3 linked regions of the Homo sapiens genome follow. The gene in region 3 interacts genetically with the main gene of each other region. Each region holds a gene or a part of one and is shown on either strand. Other genes may lie near its edges.

What was found.
Region 1: changes in ALPL (region 3) and RPS6KA2 together harm fitness more than expected from each alone (negative genetic interaction), as found in Homo sapiens cells (one large-scale study listed by BioGRID).
Region 2: changes in ALPL (region 3) and MAP4K1 together harm fitness less than expected from each alone (positive genetic interaction), as found in Homo sapiens cells (one large-scale study listed by BioGRID).

What each region holds. Positions count from the first base shown.
Region 1 is NC_000006.12:166,501,752-166,505,251, forward strand, and holds part of RPS6KA2 (ribosomal protein S6 kinase alpha-2), read right to left. Parts: intron 2,862-3,500; coding exon 2,755-2,861; intron 1-2,754. UniProt on the Homo sapiens protein: Serine/threonine-protein kinase that acts downstream of ERK (MAPK1/ERK2 and MAPK3/ERK1) signaling and mediates mitogenic and stress-induced activation of transcription factors, regulates translation, and mediates cellular proliferation, survival, and differentiation.
Region 2 is NC_000019.10:38,611,277-38,614,999, reverse strand, and holds part of MAP4K1 (mitogen-activated protein kinase kinase kinase kinase 1), read left to right. Parts: intron 1-554; coding exon 555-610; intron 611-707; coding exon 708-755; intron 756-914; coding exon 915-957; intron 958-1,047; coding exon 1,048-1,120; intron 1,121-2,257; coding exon 2,258-2,389; intron 2,390-3,694; coding exon 3,695-3,723. UniProt on the Homo sapiens protein: Serine/threonine-protein kinase, which plays a role in the response to environmental stress. Appears to act upstream of the JUN N-terminal pathway.
Region 3 is NC_000001.11:21,561,423-21,565,145, forward strand, and holds part of ALPL (alkaline phosphatase, tissue-nonspecific isozyme isoform 1 preproprotein), read left to right. Parts: intron 1-1,687; coding exon 1,688-1,862; intron 1,863-2,618; coding exon 2,619-2,794; intron 2,795-3,723. UniProt on the Homo sapiens protein: Alkaline phosphatase that metabolizes various phosphate compounds and plays a key role in skeletal mineralization and adaptive thermogenesis.

The sequences.
Region 1 (3,500 bases), on a different chromosome or scaffold from region 3:
TTGGCTGTAATTAAATCCTGTTCTTCCAGATGCTGGGAGGTACCAGCCTAGCCCTAAAGAGACCAGGAAGTGGGCTGGAAAGAAACAAAGGCAAGGCTTGGAGGATTAATCTGTGATACCTTTATAGAAACCTGTGAAAGGAAGGAAAGCCTGACTTGCTACAGCACAGAGGAGCCCGGAGGACATTATGCTCGATTAAATAAGCCCGTCCCCAAACGACAGGTATTATATGATTTTACAAATATAAAATGTATGGTCCCTAGAGGGGCCAGAGTCACAGAGATGGAAAGTGGATGGCGGGTGCCGGGGGCTGGGGAGCTACTGTGCAGGGGGACAGAGCTTTAGTTCTGCAAGATGAAACAGTTCTGGAGATGGACGGTGGGGATGGGGGCCCAGCAATGGGAACGTGCTTAATGCCACTGAACTGGGCACTTAAACGTGGTGAAAACTGTAAAAGTCATGTGTATTTTTCTACAATTAAAAAAAATCTGCCACAGAGTTAAAAAAATAACCACTATTTTCTGGAAATGGGAAGGAAAAGTTACAGCATGTAATTAAGATGACAATTTATAATGAACAAGGCAAATCTTTTCATCTTTGCCTTTTGGGCATATTCAATCTTTGCCCAGAATTAAGCACCTTTCAAGATTAATTCTCTAATAATTCTAGTTGAACAACACAACCTTTTCCTTCAAGCTTGCAATTAAATAAGGCTATTTTTAGCTGTAAGGATCACGCTGACCTTCAGGAGCAATGAGAACCGGCACTCCCGGCCTGAGTGGATGCACGGGGAGTGTGTCTAACACACAGGCGTCAACAGCCAGGGCCGCACGAGGAGGAGGAGTGGCAACGTCCACACAGACTCACAACACGGCACTCCGACTTGGAGGGTAATTAATACCAGGTTAACTTCTGGGATGACCTTGGCAACGACCCAAGGTGACAGGCCAGGCTCTGCAATCACCTCCCAATTAAGGAGAGGCGAAAGGGGACTCCCAGGGCTCAGAGCACCACGGGGTTCTAGGTCAGACCCACTTTGAAATGGAAATCTGGCCTTGTGCTGCTGCTCTTGTGGGGAGACAGCAGCTGCGGAGGCTGCTCTCTTCATGGGATTACTCTGGATAAAGTCTTTTTTGATTCTACGTTGAGCATCCCTTATCTGAAATGCCTGAAACCGGAAGTGTTTAGGATTTGGGGATTTTGCAATATTTACTTATATATAATGAGATATCTTGGAGATGGGCCACAAGTCTGAAATGAAACAAAATTCATTTATGTTTCATATATACCTTCTACACATCACCTGGAGCTAATTTATAGAATATTTTAAATAATTTTGTGTATGAAACCACGTTTGTGTTAAGTGCTTATGTGTGGAATTTTCCACTGGGGGGTGTCCCATTGGGGCTCAAAAAGTTTTGGATTTTGGAGCATTTCAGATTCGGATGAGGGATGCTCCAGCTGTATTTACACACGTATTCAACTCACATGTGTGCCTGTGGCGTTCCACGGACTGGTGGTGAAGTCAGATCATCAAGCACATGGGCAAATGCATTTTGCATCCTGCAGTGGATATGGGATGTGACCTGGTTTCTGGGTAAACCCAGCTGTTTCCCATAGATGACAGCTGCATCTAACAACACCAGCTTCGGAGCAGGGCTTGTCTTTTCTCAGTTCCATGCAGGTGACAGGGCAGGAATGTGGAGTAGCAACTGGGACGCGTTTGCAGACCCCAGGGCCCCCCCTTGGTCTTAGCTCACAGGCACGGGGCTCTCTGGTGGTACCCAAGGCCGGTCGGTCCCACCAGGCCACAGGTGATGCCTCATCTAGGGGCGGCTATGGGCCCTGGTCTGGGTGGGTGGCATTAATCGGCCCCTCAGGGCAGGGAAGAGTGAGTGATCACCTCAGGGATACTGCTGAGGTCAACTCAACCTAAAATACCATCCTCCAAATCTCTTCTTTTCTAAGTGGATCACTCCTAGTTATGTGTCAGGTCTACAAAGAATATGTAAAAACAACAACAACAAAATGAAAATGGGAACACTATTATTTTGGAGGGACTTTACTGTTCAAAAATCTAGAATAGATTAGCAAAATATCGTAGAAATAATAGCCTCACAGGTCACCACTGCCAAGGATATACAAATCTCAGTGGACTCTGGGTCTGAGAATTCTGGGGCCGTTGTCTTTTAGGTAAGTTCTTGGGAGAGCTGTTCTGACTGGGGACCTAGAGGTGGGGCTGACAAGTAACTGAGTAGAGGTTCATTGACCACATTCCTGGGACTTGCTGAAGTAGATGAAAGGGCTTCCTGAATCTGGAGGACAGTAGGGAAGAGATGAGAGAGGAGGAGAAACTGCCCTGGAGGCAGCCATGTTTGAGATGGTCCCCAGTGGCCAGATGAGCCTCACCCAGGAGAGAGGGCGGGAATGTGGGTCAGGGTCGTGGGCGTGCCCCTCCCCAGCTCCGGCTTCCCGTGCATCACAGACATGCACCTGAGCCTGGCCTCCCTCAGGCGTTATGAGTGTCAGGTGAGAATGGGCCTGGGCATTTCCTATGCAAATCAGCAAGGCCACACCTGCATCTGGGCACCTGATGCCTGAGCCGGTCCTGCCGGCACAAGAGTCTCCCCAGCCTGCTCTCTGATATGTCCTCATTTAGGAAATAAATATCTAGCAGTGGCTACCAACATGGGCCAGGAAAATACATGGAGCTGATGGGCGTGGGGAAGTCAGCCCTAGTTTTTTCTCACTTACTTCTCAGGCTTCAGATCTCTGTAGATGATCCCCAGGCTGTGGAGATGGTCTAAAGCCAAGGCCAGCTCAGCCAGGTAGAACTTGACATCCTCCTCCGTGAACATGACCTAGTAAGAAAAAAACAAAAACAAAAACAAAAAACGTTTAACTTGTTTTATGGCTGGTGTGTTTTAAAGAACTCTGCCAGAGAGACTGAGAGTCCACACTGGGGTCAGTTTGCTCTGTGGAACGCTATGGCCCCCCAGAGTGGTCTTCTGACTCTTCTCATGGAAAAGTGAGTTCCCTCTGCAGTTCCAAGATCAGTGGATGGAGACGAGGGCTTCCTGCACAGGTGACTCATGCCGCCTTGAGAGTGGGGTGCTGAGATTCAGCCTCTCCTCTCTGTGTCCTTCTCACCCCTGCAAATCATTTGGCTCTGGAGTAGGTTTCTGGGTTTACATTCTAGCATGAGTGCTGCTCATGTGAATTCATAACAAATGTAATACAAGTAAGACGCTGAGGGCTTGATGAGGTGACTGAAAATGGGGCTCAAATATCATTCTTTCCCCATGGATTATCTATCTCCACTCCTTGGGTTGATGCAAACTAGTAGCCTACGTAACCTGCTGTCAACCCAAAGTGGGATTAGTTCTACCAAAGATCACCCACAGGTGGTACAGAGTTGGCTATGGGTGCCCCAAGCTGAGGGGGCGGGATGGGGAGGGGTTTCCAGGTGTTGGGGTTGGCAGCCACATTCCGGGATCCCA
Region 2 (3,723 bases), on a different chromosome or scaffold from region 3:
TATCATATTCTACTTATTTATCTTGCTTACTTTCTTTCTTTCCTTCTTTCCTTTTTTTTTTTTTTTTTTTTTTTTTTTGAGACAGAGCCTCCTTCTATTGCCCAGGCTGGAGTGCAGTGGTACGATCTCGGCTCATTGCAACCTCCACCTCCTGGGTTCAAACGATTCTCCTGCCTCAGCCTCCTGAGTACTTGGGATTACAGGCATGCACCACTATGCCTGGCTAATTTTTGTATTTTTTAGTAGAGATGGGGTTTCACCATGTTGGCCAGGCTGGTCTCGGACTCCTGACCTCAAGTGATCCACCCACCTTGGCCTCCCAAAGTGCTGGGATTATAGGCATGAGCCACTGCGCCAGGCCTATTGGCCTCTTTTATTTGCATTGCTGCCTCTTTCTGTCACTGACCACCCCACCATCTCCCCCTCCCACTGGTCCTATCCTATTTCCCCTCTCCCTATGGCACCCTCTTAGCTGGTGTGGGGGGGCAGGACTCCCCAGCCCAGGTTCCCTGGCTCCCATCCAATGCCTGGCCTGGCCGGGGTGACCTTTGCAGTGACAGGCTCCCTGTCAGAGCTCCAGATTAGCTATGTCTGCCGGGAAGTGCTCCAGGTAAGGAGAGGCCTGGGGATTCTGGGGATGGGAGGGGAGGGTGGCCCCACTCCAGCCCCCAAACACTCACTGTCCCCTTGTCCACCCTTCTCCCCAGGGACTGGCCTATTTGCACTCACAGAAGAAGATACACAGGGACATCAAGGTGGTCTGGGGGTGTAGGGGTGCTGTTGGGGGGTGGGGCCCAGGAGATGGGAGTGGCATTTCAGGGGCTCAGGGATCAGGGTAGTTTGAGCTGGCGGAGTGGGCTAGCACTGGGCTGGGGAGAGTCTCTGCAGCCTCCCATATCCCCTCTCATTCCCAGGGAGCTAACATCCTCATCAATGATGCTGGGGAGGTCAGATTGGGTGAGTAAGGCTGGGGGTTGAGCAGGGGGGCTGACTGGGGGGCCGGAAGCGCAGTGGACCCCAGATCACTATGTCTCCCTCTGCTTCCAGCTGACTTTGGCATCTCGGCCCAGATTGGGGCTACACTGGCCAGACGCCTCTCTTTCATTGGGACACCCTACTGGTGAGTGGCGCCCAGCGGGCAGCTAGGGGTGGAGTGGGGGTCAGTGGTTTTTCCTACCCTGGTTCCCCGGGATCCTCTTTCCTGGCTCCGTTCCCCTGCCTCGTCCTTTCTCCTTGGAAGATTCTTTCATTCTCTCTGGGTGTCGCTTGAGTTTTCCATTTTCCTCTCTCTTTGTGCCCTTTTCTGGCCATTGCTCTCGGTGTTTGTGTTGATTTTTATCTTGATTTCTCTGTCCCTCCATATCCATTTCTGTCTTTTTCCTCTAGCTCAGTTTGCAGTGCTCTCTGTCTCTTTGTTTCTGTCTCTCTCACTCTCTGTCTCTGCCTCTCTGTCTTTTCATTTTGTTTTGTTTTTAGAGACAGGGTCTCACTCTGTGGCCCAGGCTGGATTGCAGTGGCATAGTCACGGCTCACTGCAGCCTAGAACTCCTGGGCTCAGGAGATCCTCCCACCTCAGCCTCCCAAGTAGCTGGGACCACAGGTGTGCACCATGACACCTGGCTAATTTTTAAAATTTGTGTAGAGATGGTGTTGTTTTTTTTTTTTTTTCTTTTTCGTTCTTTTTTTTTTTCTTGAGACGGAGTTTTGCTCTGTTGCCCAGGCTGGAGTGCAGTGGCATGGTCTCAGCTCACTGCAACCTTCACCTCCCAGGTTCAAGCAATTCTCCTGCCTCAGCCACCAAGTAGCTGGGATTACAGACGCCTGCCACCACGCCCGGCTAATTTTTGTACTTTTAGTAGAGACGGGCTTTCACCATGTTGGTCAGGCTGGTCTCGAACTCCTCACCTCAGGTGATCTGTCCGCCTTGACCTCCCAAAGTGCTGGAATTACAGGCAAAAGCCACCGTGCCCAGCCGAGATAGGGTCTTGATAAGTTGCCCAGGCTGGTCTCAAACTCCTGGGCCTAAGCCATTCTCCTTGCTCAGCCTCCCAAAGTGCTGGGATTACAGGCGTGAGCCATCGCGCCCCGTCTGCATCTCTGTCTTCATCTGCCTGTGTCTGTCTTTACTCCTGTCCCTCTGTCTCTCCATCTGACTCTCTGTGTGCTGCGTCTCCCCTCAACTCCTTCTCCTTCTCTGCCCCTCCTTCCCTTCCTGTCCCCATGCCACCTCTGGCTCTCTGAGCGTGTCTGCCCCCAGGATGGCTCCGGAAGTGGCAGCTGTGGCCCTGAAGGGAGGATACAATGAGCTGTGTGACATCTGGTCCCTGGGCATCACGGCCATCGAACTGGCCGAGCTACAGCCACCGCTCTTTGATGTGCACCCTCTCAGGTAGGCAGGCGTGGGGTCCCCAGGCCCAGAGATCCTGTCTAGCCCTGGCCCAAAGCCCACCCTCAGCTTCCGCCTTCCATCCCAGGAACCTCCAATTCAGGGATCACCACTTGAGCCTACCTTTGCACGTGCTGCAGCTCTATTTTTTAAATTTAATTTAATATTTTATTTTATTTTATTTTTTATTTTTTAAGACAGAGTCTTGCTCTGTTGCCCAGGCTGGAGTGCAGTGGCACAATCTTGGCTCACTGCAACCTCCATCTCCTGGGTTCAAGCTATTTTCCTGCCTCAGCCTCCCGAGTAGCTGAGGCTGCAGGTGTGCACCACCACGCCCGGCTAATTTTTGTATTTTTAGTAGAGACGGGGTTTCAACATGTTGGCCAGGGTAGTCTCGAACTCCTGACCTCAGGTTATCTGCCCATCTTGGCTTCCGGAGGTGCTGGGATTACAGGCGTGAACCACTGCACCCAGCCTATTTATTTATTTTTATTTTTATTTATTTATTTATTTTTGAGATGGAGTCCCACTCTTGTTGCCCAGGCTGGAGTGCAGTGGCAAGATCTCAGCTCACTGCAACCTCTGCCTCCAGGGTTCAAGTGATTCTACCACCTCAACCTCCCAAGTGTGGGATTACAGGTGCACGCCACCATGCCTGGCTAATTTTTGTATGTTTTGGTAGAGACGGGGTTTCACTATGTTGACCAGGCTGGTCTTGAACTCCTGACCTCAAGTGATCCACTTGCCTTGGCCTCCCAAAATGCTGGGATTAAAGGTGTGAGCCACCACGCCCAGACATTTTTTAAATTAATTAATTAATTCTTATTATTTTTAGAGACAGGATCTGGCTCTGTCACCCAGGCTGGAGTGCAGCGGCACGATCGTAGTTCACTTCAGCCTTGAATGCCGGGGCTCAAATGATCCTCCTGCCTTAGCCTCTCACATAGCTGGTCCTACAGACCCATATTGCCACACCCAGCTATTTAAAAAAAAAATTTTTTTTTTGTCTCACTATGTTGCCCCAGCTGGTCTCCAACTCCTGGGCTCAAGCTATCCTCCCGCCTTGGCCTCCCAAAGTGTTGGGATTACGGGCGTGAACCACCACACCTGGCCTTGCCATAGCTCTATCACTTCATAAATGGCTTCCCTTAGGAGAGGCACCCTGGTGCACTGTAAAACCTGAACCTCACTTCCATGCTGTTTCTCACTTTGCCCTCTGCTGACCACAATGCTACTAGGAACCCCTCAAGCCATGAGGTCTGGCCCCCTTGAGGGTCTGAACCCCATGTCCTTTCCCTACTATTCTAGAGTTCTCTTCCTCATGACCAAGAGTGGCT
Region 3 (3,723 bases):
TCTGTTGCCCAGGCTGCAGTGCAGTGGTGCAGTCATAGCTCACTGCAGCCTCCAACTCCTGGGCTCAAGCCATCCTCCCACGTTAGCCTCCCGAGTAGCTGGGACTACAGGTGTGTACCACCACATATGGATAATTAGAGACCCCCCCAAGGTCTCTAATTCTTGGGCTTAAGCGATCCTACAGCCTTGGCCTCCCAGTCTTGGGATTACAGGCGTGAGCCACCATGCACGGCCTATATATGCCTTTTTTTTTTTTTTTTTTTTGAGACAGTCTTACTCTGTCTTCCAGGCTGGAGTACAGTAGCATGACATCAGCTCACTGCAACCTCTGCCTCCCGAGTTCAAGTGATTCTTCTGCCTCAGCCTCCCAAGTAGCTGGGATTACAGGCATGCGCCACCATGCCCAGCTAATTTTTTTATTTTTAGTAGAGACAAGGTTTCACCCTGTTGGCCAGGCTGGTCTCGAACTCCTGACCCCAGGTGATCTGCCCACCTTGGCCTCCCAAAGTGCTAGGATTACAGGCATGAGCCACCGTGCCTGGCCTGTATACACTTTTGCATGAAGTTCCAGTTCATTCATTCTTTCCCGAGGCAGTTCGTGAAGTTAATTAGACTATAGGCATACCTCAGCTATACTTCGGGTTTGGTTCCAGGCCACTGTAATAAAGCAAATATTGCAATGAAGCAAGTCACACATTTTTTGGTTTCCCAGTGCATATAAAAGTTATGTTTGCACCCTACAGTAGTCTTTTAAGTGTGGGATAGCATTATGTCTAAAAAAATGTATATACCTTAATTTAAAAATATGCTATTGCTAAAAAACGCTAATGAAGTGAGCTCATGTTTTTGGAAAAAATGATGCTGATAGACTTGCTTGACACAGGGTTGCCACAGATCTTCAATTTGTAACAAACACAGTGTCTGTGGAGTACACTAAAATGAGGTGTGCCTGTACTGACCTAGGTTGTTCAAGGCAGTGTGCACTGCCGGGTAGCTATTGCTATTGGTGGTGGTGATAGTGGTGTTATGTAATAACCTCCAGACCCTGGGTCAGGCCCCAGGCTCACTTCTGGGGGAGTAGTGGGGACTATGGTGCCTTCTGTGCCTTCAAGGTGCTCTCAGGCTGGTGGGGAAGGGAGACAGGCAAATAGTTTTGGGGTCTCTGCTAAACATCCGGATGTAGGGCAACCCTGTGATGGTGGCCGCAGGGCAGGTGGCAGAGAAGTCAGCGCTGGTCTTGGCCCCACCCTTCCCTTCCCCAGTCCCCTTCCCCCTCACTTTCACTACCCTATCCCCAGACCCCCCACTCCTTCAAGAAGGCCCCTCCCTCTCCCTTCTCCAGGACTCCCCTGCTCCCCAACCCCTTGCTGGCTCCTGCAGCCCCAGGCCCGGAGAGAGGCCTCCGCTGACCCCACCTGAGCCCCAATCTTCCGCCGGACACTTCTCTGTACTTTGGAGAGCTAAGGTCCTGCCCCAGTGCTGCCAGGGTGCAGGGAATGATGGCAGGAAGCAGGCAGCTAGGTAGTCCTGTGGCTCTGGGGGGCTTCAGTGGGCAGTGGGCCTGGTCAAGGCTATGGGGTCCTCTCTGGTCCCTCACGCCCCAGTCCCCATGGTGTGAGTGTAGGCGGGGTGGGTGCCACTGGGGCGAAGGCCTGGCCATCTCCTGACCCTCCTCTCCCACCTGCAGACGTACAACACCAATGCCCAGGTCCCTGACAGTGCCGGCACCGCCACCGCCTACCTGTGTGGGGTGAAGGCCAATGAGGGCACCGTGGGGGTAAGCGCAGCCACTGAGCGTTCCCGGTGCAACACCACCCAGGGGAACGAGGTCACCTCCATCCTGCGCTGGGCCAAGGACGCTGGTGAGTCGGGGGAGCAGTGGGGAGCAGGGCCAGCTTCGTGGCCTGTCCAGGCCTCAGTCTTTCTGACTGTGTCATGGGAAGGGGCTAGAAAAGGCTTCTCTGTGGGGCTCCCAGCTCTGATATGCTGGGAGTCTGTAATATCCATGGGATTCCTTCCGTGACAGGGGAAGCTGAGGGTTTGGGGTTCACTCAGTGGTGGGTTCTGGTCCCAGTTCATTTCTCTGAGTCGATTCTTCATTTGACTATAAAACGGGTGGGAACGTAGCCCCCTCATAGGGTTGGTGTGAGGAGGGAGAAGTCAGCCCAGGGCTAGCCTGTGGGGTGCAGTCCATGGCCACGCCCCTTCCCTCCTCAGAATTGGGAGGCCCAGCCTGTGCCCCCAGAAGCTTTAGTCAGGGGCCAAGGCCAAAACACAGGTGACAAGGCCAACATACAGGTGACAGAGCCACAGTCCACTTGAGATCCCTCAGGGGTCCTGTGGGCGCCTTGATGAAGGGGAGGACTCCAGCCCAGGTGCTCACATCTCAAGGGCCTTCGGGGTGAGGGGAGAGGGTTCCAGAGGCAGTGTTCTGGCTGCTCGGCTACTTGGAAGCCACTGCCAGACACCTGCTGCTGTGGATGGGGAGACTGAGACCCGGGCAATCCTCAGAACTGAAGCGGGGGCCTGTCTTTAGCGGGGAGGGGGAAGGGAGGGAGGAGGCCTCTGGGACACCCCGATCTGTGGATAAAGCCAAACCCGCCCCTCCTGCACCCCAGGGAAATCTGTGGGCATTGTGACCACCACGAGAGTGAACCATGCCACCCCCAGCGCCGCCTACGCCCACTCGGCTGACCGGGACTGGTACTCAGACAACGAGATGCCCCCTGAGGCCTTGAGCCAGGGCTGTAAGGACATCGCCTACCAGCTCATGCATAACATCAGGGACATTGACGTGAGTGCTCGGGGGCAGCCGGGCAGGGACGGGGTGAGGCGGGGCCTCTGGTGGGCAGGAGGCCTCAGGCCCAGGCTGGCCCGGAGAAAGCAGCCTGGCCTGGCTCCCCACACACCTGGGAGGCTCCCAGCCCATTAGGGGATTTGCGGTTGGGCAGGCAGGCACTGTGGGATTTCTCTGCGGTGGGGCTGCGGGGTGAACCCTCATGTGACCGCCACCACACCCCAAGAACCAGGCATCCAGGGATGATTCCATAAATTGAAACCTGGTGCTGTGCCCTCCTCTGCCCCCCACTACACGGGAGGTGGTGATGGCCAAGTGTCGTCTGCCTGCCCTGCGTATTCACATGGTCACAGATGGGTACATATCTGTACACTCAACCACCAGCATGCCCGGCAAAGAGCTGGTGTGTACAGTGGTTGGCTAGTGCCAGCTCTCGTGTTTAAACTTCCGAGTTCCAGACCTTGCCCTGCGTGTTGCTAGCTGTGTGACCTTGGGTCAGTTACTTAACCTCTCTGAGGCTTCCCTTTCACAACTCCTTTGTGAACTGTACCTGCCTCATAAGCTTATGCCAAGAACTGATTAAGATAATCCCTGTGGAGCTCAGCACAGGACCCGAGGCCTAGCGAGTGCCCAGAAGGTGGTGGCACTTACGCAGGAGCCACATGTCCTTGCCCTGAAACACACTTCAACAAACTGAGCTGACTCATGGAGACAGAAGTCATCCATGTGACGCTTACTCTCTGTTCTTAAGTGAGAATGCCCGGCTCGTTCCTTTTCAGGCTTTTATTGCCTACTGTGGGGGACTGCTGAGGCGATCTGGGGACTTCTGCCCCTTGAGCCTGGAATGGGGATTCGGTGAGGGGCAGAGAAAGCCCCCCTGCCCAGCTACACCTCACCTCTTTCTCTCCACCACCAGACAAACTCAC